2 linked regions of the Homo sapiens genome follow. The protein of the gene in region 1 purifies or fractionates together with the protein of each later gene. This does not show direct contact. Each region holds a gene or a part of one and is shown on either strand. Other genes may lie near its edges.

The links. Proteins that work in one complex are often made in the same cells at the same time.
Region 2: the proteins of SLC39A13 (region 1) and EXD2 purify together in Homo sapiens (affinity purification with mass spectrometry; one large-scale study listed by BioGRID and IntAct). This does not show direct contact.

What each region holds. Positions count from the first base shown.
Region 1 is NC_000011.10:47,411,590-47,414,292, forward strand, and holds part of SLC39A13 (zinc transporter ZIP13 isoform a precursor), read left to right. Parts: intron 1-336; coding exon 337-450; intron 451-756; coding exon 757-878; intron 879-1,810; coding exon 1,811-1,918; intron 1,919-2,007; coding exon 2,008-2,097; intron 2,098-2,695; coding exon of another isoform or gene 2,696-2,703. UniProt on the Homo sapiens protein: Functions as a zinc transporter transporting Zn(2+) from the Golgi apparatus to the cytosol and thus influences the zinc level at least in areas of the cytosol. May regulate beige adipocyte differentiation.
Region 2 is NC_000014.9:69,232,998-69,236,497, forward strand, and holds part of EXD2 (exonuclease 3'-5' domain-containing protein 2), read left to right. Parts: intron 1-1,702; coding exon 1,703-2,034; intron 2,035-3,048; coding exon 3,049-3,155; intron 3,156-3,409; coding exon 3,410-3,500. UniProt on the Homo sapiens protein: Exonuclease that has both 3'-5' exoribonuclease and exodeoxyribonuclease activities, depending on the divalent metal cation used as cofactor.

The sequences.
Region 1 (2,703 bases):
GCGAGACTCCATCTCAAAACAAAACAAGATAAAATAATAATTCCCATAAGACCCAATTTACAGATGGAGAAACCGAGTCTCCAAAGTCATCTGCCAAGGTCACCAGCTAGTGGGTTGGGAGCTGGGACCTGTCAGCTCTTCACCATGACATGGTGGTGGCCCTGTGGGCATTTGGCAGGGTGTGGTGTTTCTGCTGTGAGGTGGGGGACCCAGGAAGAGCAGCCACCCATATCCAGCCTTGCAGGCCCAGAAAGAGCCCAGTGAGTGGGGTGGGATGAAGGTCAGGCCAGGAGCTCCAGCCAGTCAGCCCCCAGACCCCGCATCTCTCCCTTGTAGCTGGGGCCTGGCGCCTGAAGCAGCTGCTCAGCTTCGCCCTGGGGGGACTCTTGGGCAATGTGTTTCTGCATCTGCTGCCCGAAGCCTGGGCCTACACGTGCAGCGCCAGCCCTGGTAAGTGAGGCCACACGCCAGGGGCAAGACAGTGCCAGGAGTGGGGGCCTGGTGCCCACGCCCAGGGATGGCCAGGATGACCAGGAGAGGGATTCTGGGTTTCTGGCAGGAGCTTGCCTGGGAGGGAGGGAGGGTCATTGTCCTGGTCTCTGGGCCCTGGTCCCAGTGGGAGTTCTGGGCCCCAGCTGCCCAACCCACCCTTGTCACTGCCCTGGTGCCCTGGATGAGATCCCATTCCAAATGGCCCCCTCCTATGGCCCTGGCTTGGCTTGGCCTGGCCTGGCCTGGCATTGCCGCCCCCTGCAGGTGGTGAGGGGCAGAGCCTGCAGCAGCAGCAACAGCTGGGGCTGTGGGTCATTGCTGGCATCCTGACCTTCCTGGCGTTGGAGAAGATGTTCCTGGACAGCAAGGAGGAGGGGACCAGCCAGGTGGGCCCCACACTCAAGGGCCTGGATATATCAGCCTCTGTTCTGTGGTAGTGCCCGGGGCCTGGAGGCCCAGGGTCTGAGTTGAGCCCTGAAAAGAGGGGTCTCCTGGCCCTCTCCTGGGAGCTGCGGGAGGTTGGGCCACCTTCTTTGGGACTGACACCATTAGCCCCTGATGTAGCTTGTTCTGGTAGCCTGATGGTGACAGCAGTTGGGGAGGGTTTGTTGAGTTTGGGGGCACCCAACTGATATAGCAGCAGAGGATTCTAGCTAGAAAAAACAGGGGTTCCTATCTTTTTTTTTTTTTTTTTTTTTGAGACGGAGTCTCGCTCTGTCACCCAGGCTGAAGTGCAGTGGCACGATCGTGGCTCACGGCAACCTCTGCCTCCCGGGTTCAAGCGATTCTCCTGCCTCAGCCTCCCGAGTAGCTGGGACCACAGGTGCGCGCCACCATGCCCAGCTAACTTTTGTATTTTTAGTGGAGACGGGGTTTCACCATGTTGTCCAGGATGGTCTCGATCTCTTGACTTCTTGATCCACCCACCTCAGCCTCCCAATTATTATTATTATTTTTTTGAGAAGAGTCTCGCTCTGTCACCCAGGCTGGAGTGCAGTGGCGCGATCTCGGCTCACTACAGCTTTCACCTCCCAGGTTCAAGCAATTCTTCTGCCTCAGCCTCCCAAGTAGCTGGGACCACGCCCAGCTAATTTTTGTATTTTTAGTAGAGGTGGGGTTTCACCATGTTGGCCAGGCTGGTCTCGAACTCCTGACCTCAGGTGATCCATCTGCCTTGGGCTCCCAAAGTGCTGGGATTACAGGCATGAGCCACTGCACCCAGCCCCCGTCTCTCTTTCTCCATCTCTCTCCCCTTCTGTCTGCCCTGGCTGAGTGGGGGGCATCTAATGTCACCTCTCCCTCCTTCTCCTGGCCCTAGGCCCCCAACAAAGACCCCACTGCTGCTGCCGCCGCGCTCAATGGAGGCCACTGTCTGGCCCAGCCGGCTGCAGAGCCCGGCCTCGGTGCCGTGGTCCGGAGCATCAAAGTGAGTGGCCTGCTCAGGGCCCCTGCAGCCGTACTGCCCTGAGTGGCCAGCCCCACTCAGCCCTGCCTCCTGCCTTCCCTCCTTCCCAGGTCAGCGGCTACCTCAACCTGCTGGCCAACACCATCGATAACTTCACCCACGGGCTGGCTGTGGCTGCCAGCTTCCTTGTGAGCAAGAAGGTGAGGGGCTTGGGGCCAGTGGGGCTCTGGCGATTCCAGTGGCAGCCATGTGGATTCCACCTGTGTCTGGAGTCTCTGCTTCTTGCCCCTCCATTGCCAGCGCCCTCATCTAAGGCTCTCATCCCCCATCCTCCCTGCTGCTGTCCTGGCCGCCACTGTTCTCTGATCCTGAGCCCCTGGTCTGTTCCTGTTCCCAGTACTCCTTGTTGGGTGCCTCTGTCAAGCTGCTAGGCGTGGCCCCTGCCTGCTCCTAGATGCTTCTTCCTCTACCTCCTCCCTCTGGCCTCTGGCCTCTGGCCCAGAGGCAGCCTACTCTGCAGCTGGCCGAGATCTTTCCCACCTCACACTGTTCCCCCTGCCTGGAATGTTCTCCCGCCCACGCTTCGAGCGGCTGACGACTCATCCTTGGGGCCTCGACTTACATGGACTCCTCCACCAGGCCTTTGCTGACCTCCTCATCTAAATTTGGTTCCTGGGCCTGCTCCCCTGGGCACTCTATCCATCCTTTCCTTCCCAGCGCCTGTGAGTGTGTGAGTGAGTCCTGTCTCTCCCCTCTATACCGCTAGCTTCGTGAAGGCAGGTTCCTTGTCCCCTTTAGTCACTGCT
Region 2 (3,500 bases), on another chromosome or scaffold:
CATATAGTTTTAGCTCTTGCATTTAAGTCTGTGATCCATTTTGAGTTAATTTTTGTGTGTCTTGTGAGGTAGGGGTCCACATTCACTCTTTTGCATGTGGACCTCCAGTCATCCTAGTACCATTTGTTTCTTTATCATTAGAAAATAATGTGTTAGAGGGAACTCTAAAGTCTTCTCATTCAAGCACACATTCTTCTGTGGGAAACAGTCTGCTAATAGATATGTAGATTGTTGGATCTAGGTGGAAAATTTTATCCAAACTTGTTTTACTCTAAAAGTATAAATGATCCTTACTAATAGAATTATTCACTGGCTTGGTTATTAAAGGTGAAATAATAGAATTTTAAAGTCCTTACACTTTTTGTTGGGAAAAGCTATTAATTTTAGTTTTTTTAAAATTTTAGTTTTTTTTTTAAATTTAATTTAATTAATTTATTTATTTATTTTGAGATGGAGTCCCACTCTGTCGCTCAGGCTGGAGTGCAGTGGTGCGATCTCAGCTCACTGCAACTTCTGCCTCCTGGGTTCAAGCCCCAGGTTCAAGCGATTCTCCTGCCTCAGCCTTCCGAGTAGATGGGATTACAGGCGCGTGCCACCGCGCCCAGCTGATTTTTTTTATTTTTAGTAGAGATGGGGTTTCCCCATGTTGGCTGCGCTGGTCTCAAATTCCTGACCTCAAGTGATCTACCCGCCTCAGCCTCCCAAAGTGTTGGGATTACAAGCGTGAGCCACCACACCCAGCCGAATTTTAGTTTTGACCACGCTACTTTTTTTTTTTTTTTTTTTGAGATAGAGTCCTGTTCTGTCTCCTAGGCTGGAGTGCAGTGGCACGGTCTCAGCTCACTGCAATCTTCGTCTCCTGGGTTCAAGCGATTCTCCTGCCTTAGGCCTCCTGAGTAGCTGGGATTACAGGCGTCCACCACCACACCCAGCTAATTTTTGTATTTTTAGTAGAGACAGGGTTTCACCATGTTGGCCAGGCTGGTTTCGAACTCCTGACCTCAGGTGATCTGTTCGCCTTGGCCTCCTAAAGTGCTGGGATTACAGGTGTGAGCCACCATACCTGGCCCACAGTACTTTTCTTTATGACCAGCTTGCCTATCACCAGTTGCTTAGGAGAATGACTTACCACTATTAAATAAGTAAATTCCAGGAATGGGCCCTGTGACTTTGATTTGAGGCCCATGTTTGAAACCTATTTGTTTTTTTTGTTTTCAATATCATATTAATAGATATGGCAGTTCATTTCTGATTGACAGTCACACAGGCCTCTTAATGAATCATGATTTCAGCCATTCCAGAGGATGACTGCCTCCAAAGTGAATTTCATGTACTAGTTATCAGGCCTTTGTTAACTACCCTTCCCCCAAACTTGAGAGAAATCTGTCCAGCAATTTGGTAGTAGATAGAAACTTCACTGATTTATATAGGTGAGGATTTTCCAGCATTTAGAGTAAGTCATTATTTTAGCTATTTTAGTTAAAAACATAGGGAACATGAGAGTTAATCATACTATTCAATTTACTTTTGTGTAGTTTGAAAATTTTTATAATAAGAAGTTTTAAGGAAGTGTATGGTGCCCAGGTTGTCGTACATTTTGAATTAGGATCCTAAGAGTTATCTATTTCTTTGTGATTGACTTTGAAGTTTTTCTCTCTGGTTTGCCTTCCAGATTCCACTGATCTCTGACTTTTCTCTTCAGGTAATTTATGCTGCCAGGGATGCCCAGATTTCAGTGGCTCTCTTTCTTCATCTTCTTGGATACCCTTTCTCTAGGAATTCACCTGGAGAAAAAAACGATGACCACAGTAGCTGGAGAAAAGTCTTGGAAAAATGCCAGGGTGTGGTCGACATCCCATTTCGAAGCAAAGGAATGAGCAGATTGGGAGAAGAGGTTAATGGGGAAGCAACAGAATCTCAGCAGAAGCCAAGAAATAAGAAGTCTAAGATGGATGGGATGGTGCCAGGCAACCACCAAGGGAGAGACCCCAGAAAACATAAAAGAAAGCCTCTGGGGGTGGGCTATTCTGCCAGGTAACTGAATCACTCCCTGTCTAGTAAAGAGTCAGTGGCCCAGCCTTAGCAAAGGGTTTGATGCTTCCCTGGGGTCTGGGGAGAAGGCTTGTAGTAGGGGAGCAGCAGCTCTCCCGGGGTTAATCTTGCTTTTTCTTTCCATCAGAGACATTTGGTCTCTCCTTTGCTTTATTTGTGTATTTTTCTCCTTTTCCCTTATTTTACCTTTTTATTTATTGACAGTTGGGGTGGAAATGAGGAAAGCTTAGCTTAGTTCTGTCATTGACCCTGATGTGACCTTAGGCCTTAACTTCTCCAACTGTAAATGGGGATATAATTATCATTCCTTCCTTGTTTCAGGCTAGCTGTGGAAAATAAATAACATGTAGTGCCTCATACTTTTCAGGAGAAATGCATCATCTGATTTCTTGTTCATATGTTATTTGATTATTTAGAATGACATCCAGCTCCAAGAAAATGTTACTCTCTAGCCAATGAAAAATGTCCTGTATAACTTATTCCTCTATTGTAGGAAGATGACTAATAAGTACTTTGGAGCATAAATTTGGTCCCTGTAGCAAAGTGCCTTTAGGAATTAATTGGATGATTAAATTGAAGGAAGTGTTACTGCATGTGAGTTAGAAGTAAATCCACATGGCCCTCATTACTTTGGCTTGAACTTTAAAATTTTTAATGTACTTTGTTTAATCCAGTGATTTGGCAGTTTTCTTGTTGCTTGGTTCTTTTTTGCATTCACAGCAGAGCTGTGTGTAAACCACTTGACACACTCCCTAATGTCCTAGTCCATAAGTGTAAAAACTAGAGGCATAAACTCATTCATTTTTAGTTCTGTTTCCTAGCCCAGTGCAGGTGAGGATTAAACATGGTTTCTCACTCTGTTTTTTCCATAGTGGTGTGTTTGACCTTAGTGTTGAGAATAGTTTTGAGTCACTCAGAAGAGAGCATGGGAAGGCAACAGACATTTTGACCCACAGTTAGCTTCCGGTTTGAGATTTCTCTTTCCTTTCCCTGCAGAAAATCACCTCTTTATGATAACTGCTTTCTCCATGCTCCTGATGGACAGCCCCTCTGCACTTGTGATAGAAGAAAAGCTCAGTGGTACCTGGACAAAGGCATTGGTGGTATGAGATTCAGCTGTCCTTGTTTATCTCTAATTAGGTGCATTGGATGCTGGCAGGAGTGGGGAGTGAGATAAGGAAGAGGGAGGGATAGAAGAAGGCAGAGAGACCGTGAGATGCATGGGACTGGGTAGGCACAACCCAGAAATCATGTTCTCTGCCAGGCCATAGCAGAGAACAGTGAAGGTAGTGCTGCTTCTTGGGTGTGGTGGTGGGGGCAGGGGGAGCAGTCAAACACTGATGTCTCTTCTCTTAAGAGCTGGTGAGTGAAGAGCCCTTTGTGGTGAAGCTACGGTTTGAACCTGCAGGAAGGCCCGAATCTCCTGGAGACTATTACTTGATGGTTAA